Linked DNA regions of Homo sapiens: region 2 is linked to region 1. Evidence: fine-mapped expression QTL. A gene starts in region 1. The other region holds a variant in brackets. All regions are shown on one strand. Distances are from middle to middle. Region 1 holds the start of AEBP2 (AE binding protein 2). Region 2 has its middle 46 kb from the start of AEBP2.

Region 1 (8,335 bases):
CAGACATAAAACTGCTCTGTCAAGTTGTTATAAAAGTTTATAAAAGTTTATGAAAGCTACTTTTAGTACCTATGTAGCTACAAACCGGGAATGCACAGTTTATGAATGGGTACTGAGCTGGGGAATGACTTTGGTCCTCAGGATCATCAAACCTGTCACCTGATGCTGCCAAAAGAAACTGTCACACAGAGGTTCTGCTCTAGTTCAACACTTCAGTTATTTAAATTTTGAGAGTGAAATAATGACATCCTGTCACTGTGGTTATGGAGGAGTGTGGCCTTGTTCTAAGGAGATGCATGCAGAGCAGTGATGTCTGCAACTAAACCAAGAGGAAGACAGGGAAACTCTCCAGTGATGGGAAACACAATTTTCTGCAAAATGCCAATTCCGAGACAGTTCATTTTAGTCTTCAAGTATAAATACCACAGCTAAAATATTCGTTTGTGGCTTTGATACTTGCCATTTCCATGTGTCTAATCTCCATTCACTTTTGACACTTTTTTTTTCCCTTAATAAATCCTTCACTGGAACTTTTCACACTTTTCATCCTATCTCCTATATATTAGATTCTACAGATGTACAATATAATCTAATCATATCATACCTTTATTAAAATATCTTAGTACATACCTGTCAGAACTTTTTTTTTTTTTTTGAGACAAAGTCTCACTCTGTCACCCAGGCTGAAGTGCAGTGGTGCTTGGCTTACTGAAAGCCTGGACCTCCCTAGGCTCAGGTGATCCTCCCACCTCAGCCTCCCATAGCTGTGTGCCACCATGACTGGCTAATTTTTTTTTTTTTTTCTTGAGACGGTGTCATGCTCCGTCACCCAGGCTGGAGTGCAGTGGCGCAATTTCGGCTCACTGCAACCTCCACCTCCCGGGTTCAAGTGATTCTCCTGTGCCTGGCTAATTTTTTTATTTTTTGTAGAGATAGGGTTTCACCTTGTTGGCCAGGCTGGCCTTGAACTCGTAACCTCAAGTGATTTGTCTGTCTCAGCTCTCCACAGTGCTGGATTACAGGCATGAGCCACTGTGACTGGTCCCCAACATCAACTTTTTATTCATGTCCTTCTTCAATCTAATATTTAACTATTTTTAGCTTTCTTGCCATGATTTCTTATGGTTAATTAACCTTGTCATGAATAAATGTTGATGCTTTTCCGTATATTGCTTCTCAGTTTGAGTTCCCCAACACAGAATTCTGTTCGCTCTTCAAAATCCAGCTCAAATTAATGAAACCAGATATAGTTATTGTATGTCTTACTATACACTTTGTCGAAATCCTACATTTTTCATGAAGCTTTCCTTGATTAACTCGGCCAAACATGAACCATAATCTCCAGGGCTTAACACAGTGTCTGGCACATACATTTGTTGGGGCTCAGAAAATGATACCCCAAAGTATGGTGCTTTGGCATGCTGAGTACTTTTGTCAGAGGTGTTCGAACCACAGCGACTCGCATCGTGAATACGGGATGGGTAAAATAAGGCTGAAACCTACTGGGCTGCATTCCCAGGAGGTTAGGCATTCTAAGTTAGGATAAGATAGCAGGTCAGCACAAGATACAGGTCACAAACTCCTTGCTGGTAAAAGGATGTGGTAAAGAAGCTGACCAAAACACACAAAAACCAAGATGCGATGTAAGTGACCTCTGGTCATCGTAGCTACTCATTATGTGCTAATTATAATACATTAGCATGCTAAGAGACAACTCCCACCAGTGCCTTGACAGTTTACAAATGCCATGCCAATGTCGGGAAGTTACCCTATCGTCTAAAAAATGGAGAAACCCTCATTTCCAGGAACTGCCCACCCTTTTCCTGGAAAACTCATGAATAATCTACCCCTTGTTTAGCGTATAATCAGGAGATGACCATAAAAGTGGCCAGCCAGAAGCCCTCAGTGCTGCTCTGTCTATGGAGTAGCCATTCTTTTATTCCTTTACTTTCTTAATAAACTTGCTTTCACTTTACTGTATGGACTTACCCCAAATTCTTTCTTGTGTGAGGTCCAAGAACCCTCTCCTGGGGTCGGGATCGGGGCCCCTTTCTGGTAACACTTTGTGTTTTCTTTTGTTTTCTTTTCTTTTTTCTTTTTTTTTTGGGGGGGGGATAAGGTCTTACTCTATTGCCCAAACTGGAGTGCAATGGCTCTTGATCACTCACAGTTCACTGCAGCCTCAATCTCCTGGCTCAAGCTGTCCTCCCACCTCAGCCTCCCAAGTAGCTGGGACTACAGGTGCACACCACCACACCTGGCTAGTTAACAACAAAAAAAAGTGTTTTGTAGCGATGGAGTTTCATCCCATTGCTCAGGCTGGTCTCGAACTCCTGGGCTCAAGTGATCCCCCTGCTTCAGTTTCCCAAAGTGCTGGGATTACAAGAGTGAGCCACTGCACCTGGCCCCCATGCTGAGTACTTTGAACTAAAGGAGATTGGAAAGCCTGAGAAGCAAAGTCTCTCACTGAACCTCTGTCCTGCTGTCTCCTATCCCTGTTACTCACCCTAGGCTAGTCATATAAACCAGAACTCCTTTCCCCACAAAGTAAGCCATGAAACGAAGAAAGGTCACTCTCTGCCTTCTCATTTGAAGACTCTCATTCCAGAGAAGTCTGCTCTATACCTGGGTGTGGAAGGAATGCTACACAGAGAGGTCAAGACGAATCTGGACAGGCCTTGCTGGGTTTCCACACTCAGTCTATTACTATTAGTTCATTCTCTTTTTGTACAATCACATTTCTACATGGATGTCCACTCTGTTGAATCTAGGCATACAAATGGACAGCTTTCTCTGGGTCTTTACTTCTGAAGGCTCCTGTGTCACATAAGACTTCCATTAAATTAATTTGTTACACTTTTCTCTTGTTAACCTGTCTTTTGTTGTAGAAGTGTTGGCCATGACCCTTATGATGGGTGAGGAAAGGTATGGAGTGCAGTGGCATGATCATGGCTCACTGCAGCCTCAACCTCCAGGGCTCAAGTGAACCTCCCACTTCAGCCTCCTGAGTAGCTGGGACTACAGGTGTGCCGTAGAGACAGGGTCTCGCTATTTTACCCAGGCTGGTCTCAAACTCCTGGGCTCAAGTGAGCCTCCTACTTTGGCCTCCCAAAGTGCTGGGATTACAGGTATAAGCCACCCTGCCGGCCTTCTGATAGTTTTTAATTTACAGTTTACAGTGTATTTCACTTTAATACATTCCTTATCTAAGATTGCCTTTGAGGTTTAAAATGTTGGAAGTTAATACCTTACATTGTATGTGCCTCTGAAGGTATCTGTAAATGATGTCCCATGTTATTATTTTTGCATTCCCTTAGAGGCAACATTTTATATAACAGTTGTCCAAAGGCCTAAGGCAGAGGATGTAATACTGGGTACTCACGGTATATGACGACTTTCCCAAATGGGAAATGAGCATGGAGGCTCTGTTTTCAGGCAGTCAGTTCTATCCTCATTTTCCTTGAGTAGAAGCATCCCTAAAATTGGCCTGAAAATGTGTCCTTGGGTCAGGGTGTAATGTGGGCTCTTTTCCAGTCTCCTTTCTTCCAATGACCTCTTCCCTACTTTACAAAAGAAAGGCATAATTCTTCCTCATGCTAAATCTTAGTAAGGTGCAATACCCGGTTATGCAAAAACCTCCAGGACACCAAAGAAAGGCACAATTGACTGGTGAATAAGAATGGGGTAACACATCCTTTCACAAGTCAGGTGGTTTTCAGTTGCTTGCTTTCAACAAGTTGAAAGAGAACCTAATCAGAGTTGTCAGCTGACAGATCATTAAAAGTATTTTTTCTTTGTTAGATCTTTATGCGATTTTTGGGCATATAATGCGAAAGGCATTCAAAGAATTGTGTGGCATTACTATAACAAAACTCCATTCATTCTCATCTGCTTTTTTTATGCGAACAAGTTTTCTCAACACTTATATCCATGGAATTGAAAACTTGGAATAGAACTGATGCTGAACTATTTCTCAAAAAAATCCATCCACTGAAGGTCATAATGTATATTAGAAAAAAGTCCACCCAAGTTCATTTCTGCAAGATGCATTGCCAATAAAATTTTGCTTTTGTGTTTAGTACTTACAAACATTTGAAATAGATTTGTTTTGATCGGTTGAAATAAGAGCTTTATGATCACAGAAAATATAAAAAACAACCCAGATACTTCAATTTATGTTCACATTTTTATTACAAGTAAGACGATCAAAATAGTTCAAATATAAAATATATTACTAGGATAAAATTCTAGAGGAGATATGCAACGTCAATATGAGTTCCAGAAAACAATATTTGGAAATTGTATTTTCCAAACTGTATTTTAAAAAAATGGATATTAGTGGGTGTTAAATCCCTATGGTATTTAGAATCCATTGGCTATACAGTATTTAAACAATGCGACAGATGAAATATTTATAAGCCGGAAAAATGTAGCTGTCATTCTAAACTGTATAAGAACATACACAGCTTTACGAAATTGTTTTAGAAGGCTCATGAAGTAAAAAGTTTGAGGACCCTGAACCAAGATGTTTGCTCTGGGTTCAGGATGTCAACATCTCCAGGGGTATTCAAACATAGGGTGTATTAAAACCTGTCGCCCTGTGTTGCGCATAAAAATTTAGTACCTTACACCGTAGTGTTTTAATTTTTGCCCATTTTAAACCGCTCTCTTCGTAGACTGTAGGCTCGTTCTATTCCTGGCTCAGCTCCTGTACAGAGGGGACACTCCTCAAACACCCCCGGAATGAATGAGTTTATCGTGAGAACTCGGAAGGCTGCTAAAATCCCCGGCCAGCGTTGGAGTTTTCAGTCCGCGTGTCCCTGGGCTTCGAAGCCCGGCAGGGCGTGGGAAGGCCCCGAGGAAACGCTGAGCACTTGCAGGCGCCGGGGCGGGGGCGGGGGCGGGCACTGGGCAGCGGGGCGGGCGCCGGGCGGGGGCGGGGGCGCAGAACCCGCAGCCGGGGGAGGTGCTGCCTCGTGCCGCCGCGCAGGCGCGCAGCAGTCTCCGTGTGAGTGCGCGTAGTCGCGCGCCTGTCCCCGCGCGGGCTCCGTAGCGCGTGTGCAGGCTGACGCAGCTCGCGGGCCCTCCTCCTGCTCTGCAGCGGCGTCGGCGGAGTTTTGGGCGTTTGGGAGGGGGGCGAGGGAGAGAGAGTCGAGAGAGGGAGGCGGCGGTGGGGAGGAGGAGGAGGAGGAGGAGCAGGCGCCGCCATGGCCGCCGCTATCACCGACATGGCCGACCTGGAGGAGCTCTCCCGCCTGAGCCCTCTGCCCCCCGGCAGCCCGGGTTCGGCGGCGCGGGGCCGGGCTGAGCCCCCCGAGGAGGAGGAGGAAGAGGAGGAGGAGGAAGAGGAGGCGGAGGCCGAGGCGGTGGCGGCGCTGCTGCTGAACGGCGGCAGCGGTGGGGGCGGCGGAGGCGGCGGCGGAGGAGTGGGGGGCGGCGAGGCAGAGACGATGTCGGAGCCGAGCCCCGAGAGCGCCAGCCAGGCCGGGGAGGACGAAGACGAGGAGGAGGACGACGAGGAGGAGGAAGATGAGAGCAGCAGCAGCGGCGGGGGTGAGGAGGAGAGTAGCGCCGAGAGCCTGGTGGGCAGCAGCGGCGGGAGCAGCAGCGACGAGACCCGCTCGTTGAGCCCCGGCGCCGCCAGCAGCAGCAGCGGGGATGGGGACGGCAAGGAGGGCCTGGAGGAGCCCAAGGGACCGCGGGGCAGCCAGGGCGGCGGCGGGGGCGGCAGCAGTAGCAGCAGCGTAGTCTCCAGCGGCGGCGACGAGGGCTACGGGACTGGGGGAGGCGGAAGCAGCGCGACCTCCGGGGGCCGGCGGGGCAGCTTGGAGATGTCGTCGGATGGGGAACCCCTGAGCCGCATGGACTCGGAGGACAGGTCAGTGCTCTGAAGCGTTTCCCCTTCCCTTCCTCCTCTTGAACTCCCGGGCCCCTCAGAGGGGGACCAAGGCGACGTTTTGCCGCGATCCCCCTGCTCCCCGAATCCTCGGCCCCTCCCCCAGACTCTCAACTCGGAAATCTCTCGCCGTCGCCGCCGCGCCCCTCTCGCAGCGCATCGCGGCTTCCAACTCTCAAACCGTTCCCCCCCAACTCTCCTTTCCCCGCCCTCTTTCCCCTCGGCGCTTCGCTCCTCACGGACCTCAGGACGGCTCTAACTCGGAAACAGTCCCCAAACGGGCCCAGATCCTCTGGCGGAGCAGAAGAGGGCCTTGATGTACACACGTCGGTACTCAAGGTTAGCTTCTTCCAACCGTGTTCGGGAACACTTGTCAGAACTACAATTGACAAGTGTTTCCAATATGGCTGGTCTCGCCTGGATTTAACAGAACTTCCTTGTCCATGGGAGAGACCCCAGCTATCACTTTTCTCTACTTAAACAAAAAAAGGACTGTTCTTTTATATTAAATCATTGCCTCCCAAATCCCTCATTTGTAGTCAGTCATGTGGTCTCCAACGTGATTTTAACAATCTTTTCTATTTGTTTTGGGAGCATATCTGGGAAAAAGTTTTAAACACGTATAAATGGTTGTGGAAAAGAATAGTGAATTGATGGCCTTTTAAGATAACTTTGCGGAATCAGAGAGTTGGAATCGTAACAAAATACAGTCTTGAAGGTACAACGTAGTTTGCGGCTTTATAGTAATGTTTCAACATGAGAGTCATGATTTTAAATGATAATATTTAAAGTCATGCATTGGAGAGGTCTCGGAAGGAATGAGTATTATTTTTCTTACTAAAGCTTGTTAGAAGTAACTGGAGAGTGACAAAAATGCGCATTTTTTCAGAACATTTAAAAAGTGTGATAGTGTATGTTTCAATTGTCTTATCATTACTTTTGATCTGTTTGGGTTAGTTGGTTTTTAATGTACTTTTAAAAAAACGAGAATCACATGCATATTATGCCACTTCTAAAGTGTATTAGCGTTTATTTTGACCATCTATGTTTTGACAATCACATTTTTTTTAAACATGCTCTCCAGAAAAGTATAGCAATGGAAATTTTAGTGGTCGATAGTGATTTTCATTTAAGAGTTTAATATTCTAAAGTTCTAGGAATTCTGATTAATTGATTAAAAACGAACACCTTAGTATTTAATGCTACAAGTAATACAGAGTCCTGGATATTTTGAAAATCTGGCATTAGATTCTGTTTGACATTAACGTCTAGTTAAGAAAATATCTTCGGGTAAAGTAGACTGTATAAACCTTAGAAAAATTGTGTTGAACTGTGTAGGCATGGGTAGGAAGGAGAATGTCTTCAAGAAAATTAAAAATTGATGTAAACTGCACAATGAAGCATGTGCTATTTTTACCATTTTATGCTCCTCTGATACCATTACATATCTGAAAGTTGACATTAGTTTATAAAATCAGCGTTTTTCATTTACTCAGTATACACGTATTATGCTTGCCTACCACTGTACAAATTAGATGTCTTCCATTTCATTCCCACAACTATGGTGCAAGATAGGTATTATTTTGACTTCTGTTTAACAGATGAAGAAGCAAGTTGAGTATCTTACTCAGGACAGTAAATACAGCATGGAAATGGTGGGCTGGATATGAGCAAAGGTTCTCAAGTCCCCTATTATTTCCACTGAAGAGTTAAAATAATTCGCCTTAAATAAGTTGAGGCCGGGCGCGGTGGCTCAGGCCTGTTAACCCCAGGACTTTGGGAGGCCGAGGTGGGCGGATCACCTGAGTTGGGAGTTTGAGATCAGCCTGGCCAACATAGTGAAACCTTATCTACATTAAAAATACAAAAATTACCCGAGAGTGGTGGCGCGCGCCTGTGTTCCCAGCTACTCGGGAGGCTGAGGCAGGAGAATCGCTTGAACCCGGGAGGCAGAGGTTGCAGTGAGCTGAGATGGTGCCACTGCACTCCAGCCTGGGCGACAGAGCGAGACTCCGTCTCAAAAAAAAACCAAGTGATATGTGTCAGAGTTTTGTTTTTAGTTAGTGTCCATTTACTACATCACTTCAGGAGACGAATTATTGGTTAAGTACATTTAGGAAGTGGAGTTGTGGCTTTTATTTGACATTAATGAGATATTTACTTGAGTATATAATTTTTACATCTTATTTCAGAATAAGAAGTAAAATACGGGTGTCACAAATCCAACTACAGTTAAAACTTGATAACCAAGCAAACTTGGTTTTCTTAATGCTTAATTTTAGAGACTACAGAATACTGTTTTTAATGTCACCATTTCAGGGTAATAGATTTGTCACTTGTATGAAGAAGGCTTACTAGTGAAACTGGCTTGGGGTCTTAATAATCTTAATTCTGAAACATCTTCTTGTTGCCTTTGAGATTTTTCTCCCAGTTATTTTG
Region 2 (8,335 bases), 45 kb before region 1:
CCATGAAGCCTCCATAAAAGACACGGTTCTGATGAGCTTCCAGATGATTGAATGTATGGAGGTTCCTGGAGAGTGTGGAAGCTCCACACCCCTTACCCCATACCTCACCCTATGCATCTCTTCATCTGTATCCTTTATTATAAACCATCAGCGTAAGTGTTTCCCTGAGTTCTGTGAGCCCTCCTAGCAAATTAATCAAGCCCAAGAGAGGGTCTGGTTTGTAGCCAGTCAGAAAGTCTGGGGAGGCACGGACTTGTGATTGGCATCTGAAGTGGAGGCAGTTTTAGTGGGGCTGATCCTTCCACCTGTGGGAACGGACACTATCTCCAGGTATGTAGTGTCAGAATTGAATTAGAGGACACCTAGCCGGTATGCGCTGGAGAATCTGCTGGAGGTTTGCTTGGTGGGCTGATGGGGAGAAATCCACACACATTTTGGTGAGCAGGTGTGCTATGTCAAATTGAGTGGTCTCAACACAGTCTCATATTCTCACTGGCCAGAACCAAATGACATGGCCACCCTAGCCATCGGGGTGTCTGGGAAAACAAGTGTTTCTCTTCCCAAACTTTAGAATAGAGAAAGGCAAGGAGAAAAGAGTTGAAATGGGTGTTGAGTGAGCCAAGCTGCAAAAAATATCCCACAAACTAACATCCACCTCACAAACTAAATGTCACCTGCAGCGAACTGGTTAAATAAATCAGAGACTATCCAGTGCATGTTGTTCCTTATTGTATGGTGTGGTTAATCTATGAAAAGCTGTTCACTGTATATGTAGTAAACAGGGCAGTTTATAAAACAATATGTCCTGCAGGATCCCATTTTGTTAAAGAGACATGTATACTATTCATTCACAGAAAAGCCTGGATATACACGATAATGTTCATTCTGGATCTTCTTTAAACACTTCCACATTCTATGATTTATTTTTGGCAAGAAATCACGTCTTTGTTTTAGAATAAGGAGCAGAAAGTAAATTTCCATTTTTAGTTTCCCATTGGGCCAGAAACTGGAGATAAACTAGTCAGTTAAAATCAACCTGATGATGCCTTCTGCCCCCCACGTGACCTCTAAATGTTAGCTGTAAAACTTTGTGAGTTGAGTCAAAGCCAAGTTTAAAGGGAAAACCATAAATAAGCCATTTTGGAAAATATAGCTATTGGCAATCTGTTACATTTCACTTGTATTTCTAAGAGGACACACTCCAGCACATCCCTAGTTGCCTGACTAAAGCTCGCTTGGTAAAACAAAGTGATAATTATTTCAGCAATAGGCTCAGCGCACAATCATGTAGAACCTGTTTTTGAAGGAAGACTGATTGGCATGCCAAAAAGAAAGTCTTGGGTCAGGATGCTAAGTAAAAACTTATTTGTGAAATGGTCTGGAAGAATTTGATAGTGTGAATGTATCATCTCTGAGGAAATCTCAGGAACATCAACATAAAACAAGCTCTCCTTTGAGTTTCCAGTGATTTGGTTCATTTGCTTGTTTTTTGGAATGACTCATAGTTGATTTAAAACATTGTAATAGACAACTTACACAGTTACCTTTTTTTTTTTTTTTTCTGAGACAGAGTCCTGCTCTGTTGCCCAGGCTGGAGTGCAGTGGCGCGATCTCTGCTCACTGCAAGCTCCACCTCCTGGGTTCATGCCATTCTCCTGCCTCAGCCTCCCGAGTAGCTGGGACTACAGGTGCCCGCCACCAGGCCCGGCTAATTTTTTTGTATTTTTAGTAGAGACGGGGTTTCACCATGTTAGCCAGGATGGTCTCGATCTCCTGACCTCGTGATCCACCTGCCTCAGCCTCCCAAAGTGCTGGGATTACAGGCTTGAGCCACCCACCACGCCCGGCCACAGTTACATTTTAAAATCAAACCTAGCCCTAAAAAAATAATACCAGCATAACATAAGTCTATTATCTTGTCTACTATCTTGATCTGAAGAGAACTCTAGGCTTTGGTCCTTAACACCATCTGGGCTAAAATGTTCTGGGAGACTCAAGGAAGGACTGTGATTGCTTTCAGAGAGACAATAACCAGTTCTCGTAAGATTCCTGTGGATGGACCAAAAGTAGACTCAGCACATACATTTTGTGGAAACAACATATAATCCGTGGCACATCTGCCTCCTTTTACAAAAGTAAAAGAAATAAGAATTTAAAGGAAGGAAAGAAAGTGGAATCTGGAAGCAGTAAAAAGGCTATAAGCTTGAGGATTGGAGGCAGAAGGGAGCAAGGATCAGAAGGTGCATCAGGCATCAGGTTCAACTGAAGAGAACAATGAAGGTCACAGCCAGCAATAGAACTCACTGAGAATCTTCATAAATGTCTGATGAAACCACCAAAGAATATATTGTTTAAAATCTATTTTTATTTTCTTTTATTTTACTTTATTTTTGAGACAGAATCATGCTCTGTCGCCCAGGTGGGAGTGCAGTGGTACGATCTCAGCTCACTGCAACCTCTGCCTCCTCGGTTCAAGTGATTCTCACGCCTCAGCCTCCTGAGTAGCTGGGATTACAGGCATGTGCCACCACACCCAGCTAATATTTGTATCTCCTTTTTTTTTTTTTTTTTTTTGGAGAAGGAGTTTCGCTCTTGTTGCCCACGCTGGAGTGCAATGGCGCCATCTCGGCTCACTGCAACCTCCGGCTCCTGCGTTCAAGCTATTCTCCTGCCTCAGCCCCCCGAGTAGCTGGGATAACAGGCATGTACCACCACGCTCGGCTAATTTTGTATTTTTAGTAGAGACAGGGTTTCTCCATGTTGGTCAGGCTGGTCTCAAATTCCTGACATCAGGTGATCCGCCCACCTCAGCCTCCCAAAGTGCTGGGATTACAGGCATGAGCCACCACACCCAGCCGTCTCTCTCTCTTTTATTGTGAACAGGGTCTCACTGTGTCACCCAGGCTGGAGTGCAGTAGCATGATCCTGGCTTACTTCTTACTTCAGCCTCAACCTCCTGGGATCAAGCAATCCTCCCACCTCAGCCTACTGAGTAACTGGGACTATAGGCTCATGCCACTACACCCGGCTAATTTTTAAATTTTTTTATAGAGACAAGGTCTCACTATGTTGCCCAGGCTGCTCTCAAACTCCTAAACTCAAGCAATCTTCCAGCTCCAGCTGGAAAAATATGTATATGTTTTGCTCTTTGTTGCCCAG[G/A]CTGGAGTGCAATGGTGTGATCTCAGCTCACAGCAATGTCTGCCTCCCGGGTTCAAACAATTCTCCTGCCTCAGCCTCCCAAGTAGCTGGAATTACAGGAGCCTGCCTCCACACCTGGCTAATTTTTTTTATTTTTAGTAGAGATGGGGGTTTCACTGTGTTAGCCAGGATGGTCTCGATCCCCTGACCTCATGATCCGCCCACCTCGGCCTCTGAAAGTGCTGGGATTACAGGAGTGAGCCACTGTGCCTGGACTGTTTTGTTTTTGTTTTTGTTTTTGTTTTTTTTTGAGACAGAGTTTTGCTCTTGTTGCCCAGAGTGGAGTGCAATGGCACGATCTTAGCTCACCGCAACCTCTGCCTCCTGGGTTCAAGCGATTCTCCTGCCTTAGTCTCCCGAGTAGCTGGGATTACAGACATGTGCCACCACACCCGGCTAATTTTGTATTTTTAGTAAAGACGGGGTTTCTCCATGTTGGTCAGGCTGGTCTCGAACTCCTGACCTCAGGTGATCCACCTGCCTCGGCCTCCAACAGTGCTGGGATTACAGACTTAAGCCACCACGCCCGGCCCTGAGGTATTTTAAGTAGGAGATTGACAGGACCAGATTTGCCTTTTGAATAGATAACTGTGTCACTTTTGTATATTCATACAATGAAAAGGTTATGCTGCACTGAAAATAGACTTGGATGACACGTCTCAGCATGAAAATTTCACACAGATGTAAGATTAGTGGGCTAGGGGTAGCGACCAAGTGACAGAAGGATACATACAATGTAATTTTATCTATATAAGCATAAAATATTCATGAAAATATACACACACATATATGGACACATAAATATTGTAAAAATATAAAGACCTGTGGAAAAGGATAAATGGCAAAATCAGGTTATAGTTATCTCTGGAATGCTAGGCCGGGCAAGGTTGCCCATGCCTGTAATCCCAGCACTTTGGGAGGCTGAGGCAGTGACAGAGCGAGACTCCATCAAAAGGAAGGAAGGAAGGAAGGAGGGAGGGAGGGAGGGAGGGAGGAAAGGGGAAGGGGAAGGGGAAGGGGGAAGGGGGAAGAAAGGAAGCATTATGCTAAGTGAAGAACGAATTTACAAAAGGCCACATATTGTATGATTCCATTGATATGAAATATCCATCATAGGCAAATTCATAAAGACAGAAAGCTGATTAGTAGTTGCCAGGTGCTTAGAAAGAGGGAAATGAGAAGTGACTACTTGATGGGTATGGGGTTTCCATTTGGGATGAAGAAAAGGTTTTGTTAACGAGGTCATGATGTCTGCACACTATGAATGAATGTCTGCACATCATGAATACCTGTACTTAATGCCACCGAATTGTACACTTTCAAATTGTTAAAATGGTAAATTTTATGTTATGTGCCTTTTACCACAATTTAAAGGGAAAGAAAATGAGGAGGCTCAGGTTTGTGCACTTAACCATACCACTCATCTAACTTTATGTACTTGCTCATGCTTCACAGAATGTAGAGATCCAGGCTGGGTGTGATGGCTCACGCCTGTAATCCCAGCATTTTGGGAGGCTGAGGTGGATGGATCATCTTAGGTTGGGAGTTTGAGACCAGCCTGGCCAACATGGTGAAACCCGGTCTCTACTAAAAATACAAAAATTAGATGGGCGTGGTGGCGGGCGCATGTAATCCCAGCTACTAGGGAGACTGAGCCACGAGAATCACTTGAACCTGGGAGGTGGAGGTGACAGTGAGCTGAGGTCATGCCACTGCACTGCAGCCTGGGTGACAGAGTGAGACTACATCTCAAAAAAAATAAATAAATAAAAAATAAAATTAGAGACTGTGTCTCAAAAATAAATAAATAAAATTTAAAAATAGGCCAGGGGCAGTGGCTCACACCTGTAATCCCAGCACTTTGGGAGGCCGAGGCGGGTGGATCACGAGGTCAGGAGATCGAGACCATCCTGGCTAACACAGTGAAACCCTGTCTCTACTAAAAAAATATAAAAAATTAGCCGGGCGTGGTGGCCGACACCTGTAGTCCCAGCTACTTGGGAGGCTGAGGCAGGAGAATGGCGTGAACCCGGGAGGTGGAGCTTGCAGAGAGCCAAGATCACTGCCACTGCACTCCAGCCTGGGCAACAGAGCGAGACTCCGTCTCAAAAAAAAAAAAAAGAATGTGGAGATCCAAGTTGATCAAAAAGACATGGTGTTCCCTCTGCTTGAGACAATCTCCTTTCAGGCACACATGAACTCACACCCACACACCCTTTCCTTTGTTCTAGGAAATCCTACCTACCTTTCAGCTAAGACCTCACTACTTCCAGAAATATTTTCCTGACTGCCTTATGCCTCTTGGGACAAAACATCCCTCTATTGTGTACTTCACAGCTTTAGCTTCTTCCCTATTGTAGCATTAATAGACTTGTGAGTCCCCCACTGTATCCCCACGGTATCTCCCGACTTAGCAGAGTGTTATGCACATAGTAAATCTTTGCTGAGTGAAAACATATGTTATAAATATCTTGTTTTTTAATAAAAAAGATTATTATCTCTCTGTCTCCCAAAATTACAAGGATCTGGAATCTCACAGACAGGAGGAGAGAATAGGGCGGGACACTATGGCTCATGCCTGTAATCCCATCACTTTGGGAGGCTGAGATGGGAGGATCACTTAAGCCCAGGAGATGAAGGCTGCGGTGAGCAAGCATTGGGCCACTGCAATTCAGCCTGGGCAACAGAGTGATGAGAACTTGTCCAAAAAAAAAAAAAAAAAAAAAAAAGGTTAACCAAGTTCTGAGCTGTTAACATGACAGTAATAACAGACTTTTTTTGTTTTTATTTTTGTTTTTTTGAGACAGAATCTCACTCTGTCATCCAGGCTGGAGTGCAGTGGCGCCATCTTGGCTCACTGCAACCTCCGCCTCCCGGGTTCACGCCATTCTCCTGCCTCAGCCTCCCGACTAGTTGAGACTACAGGCGCCCACCACCACGCCCGGCTAATTTTTGTATTTTTAGTAGAGACGAAGTTTCACCATATTGGCCAGGCTGGTCTCAAACTCCTGACCTTGTGATCTGCCTGCCTTGGCGTTCCAAAGTGCTAGGATTACAGGCATGAGCCACTGCATCCGGCCTGGACTTATGTTTTAAATGGTGCTAATCTAGATTAATTAATTAGAAAAACCTCCTTTGAGCACCCACCATGTTTCTAGTATTGTGTTCCATGTGGTTTAAGTTGCATAAGACACAGTTACAACCCAGAAGGATCCTGTACTACCACTGCTCAAGCAATGGGGTCACCCACAACTTCATCACTTTTCTCTCCTCCCTGCTCCAGTTGTGCAGCAATGATCCCTCCACTTCTATTCTTTCTCTCTTCCTACCAGGGACCAGTTCTTCAGCGAGGTGCTGGGGATAACAGCATGAGCCAGACTAGAGACCCTGCTTACGGTTTACTTACCCATCATCCTCAGATATCCTAGATGAGTTTTCTCATCTGTATAAAAAGGAAATAGGGACTGGGCGCGGTGGCTTATGCCTGTAATCCCAGCACTTTGGGAGGCCGAAGTGGATGGATCACTTGAGGCCAGGAGTTCAAGGCCAGCCTGGCCAACACAATGAAACCCTGTCTTTACCAAAAAATGCAAAAATTAGCTGGGCATGGTGGCATGTGCCTGTAATCCCAGCTACTCGGGAGGCTGAGGCAGGAGAATTGCTTGAACCCAGGAGGGGGAGGTTGCAGTGAGCCAAGATCACACCACTGCACTCCAGCCTGTGCAACAGAGTGAGACCCTGTTTAAACAAACAAACAAACAAACAAACAAAAAGAGGAAATAGAGTTACCTGATCCTGAACCTGGCCCTAAGGTATGCTTTCAAAATAGGTTATTTCCCTTTCCCTCCTCTCATTTGACCAAGAGCTATGAAAGAAGTGTTGTGTGCTCAGAAAGTCCAGCTCCAAGTTCAACCAGCCAAGCATGGTGACTCACGCCTCTAATCCCAATATTTTGGGAGATCAAGGTGGAAGGATCACTTGAGGCCAGGAGCTCAGGAGGTCAAGATCAGATTGGGCAACACGGCAAGTCCCCGTCTCTTAAAAAGAAAAAAAAAATTAAAAAAGAAATTGGCCGGACGCGGTGGCTCATGCCTGTAATCCCAGCACTTTCGGGGGCAGAGGTGGGCAGATCATGAGGTCAAGAGATCAAGACCATCCTGGCCAATATGGTGAAAACCCGTCTCTACTAAAAGTACAAAAAAATTAGCTGAGCATGGTGGCATGTGCCTGTAGTCCCAGCTACTCTGGAGGCTGAGGCAGGAGAATCGCTTGAACCTGAGAGGGGGAGGTTGCAGTCAGCCGAGATTGCGCCACTTCACTCCAGCCTGGGTGACAGAGCGAGACCCCGTCTCAAAAAAAAAAAAAAAAAAGAGGGAAATTAGTCACTTAGGAAAATAATACCTTTTCTTTTTCTAAATAAAATACAAACAGAGTCTTGCTGTGTTGCCGACAATTGTCTTGAACTCCTGCTCTTAAGTAATCCTACTCCTTTGACCTCCCATGGTGCTGAGAACAGGCGTGAGCCACTGCACCCAGGCTGCCTTTCTAAAATAGAAAGATGGCTTTCAAGGCTGGACGCAGTGGCTCAAGCCTGGGAGGCCAAGGTGGGTGGATCATTTGAGGTCAGGAGTTCGTGACCAGCCTGGCCAACATGGTGAAACCCCATCTCTACTAAAAATACAAAAATTGTCGGGCGTGGTGGCTCACACCTGCAGTCCCGGCACTTTGGGAGGCCGAGGCGGGCAGATTACCTGAGGTCGGGAGTTTGAGACCAGCCTGACCAACATGGAGAAACCCCGTCTCTACTAAAAATACAAAATTAGCCATGTGTGGTGGCGCATGCGTGTAATCCCAGCTACTCAGGAGGCTGAGGCAGGACAATCACTTGAACCCGGGAGGTGGAGGTTGCAGTGAGCCGAGATGGCACCATTGCACTCCAGCCTGGGCAACAAGAGCGAAACTCCATCTCAAAACAAAACAAAACAAAACAAAACAAAACAAAACAAAAATTACCTGGGCATGGTGTTGCGCACCTGTAGTCTCAGCTACTCGGGAGGCTGAGGCAGGAGACTCTCTTGAACCTGGGAGGTGGAGCTTGCAATGAGCTGAGATCTCGCCATTGCACTCCAGCCTGGGT

The links.
Region 2: its variant is fine-mapped to the expression of AEBP2 in esophagus mucosa (GTEx, PIP 0.96).

The regions. Positions count from the first base shown.
Region 1 is chr12:19,434,493-19,442,827 of GRCh38, forward strand. It overlaps AEBP2 (AE binding protein 2), which reads left to right and starts at 5,000. Exons shown (of 8, transcript NM_153207.5): 1 at 5,000-5,878. The coding sequence starts at 5,208. RefSeq lists enhancers at 78-177, 6,088-6,137, 6,168-6,257 and silencers at 4,868-5,117, 5,178-5,327, 5,338-5,437.
Region 2 is chr12:19,389,077-19,397,411 of GRCh38, forward strand. No RefSeq gene overlaps it. Among named protein-coding and RNA genes, the nearest start is that of AEBP2, 46 kb to the right of the region's middle. The variant G/A (reference allele first, on the strand shown) is at 3,160.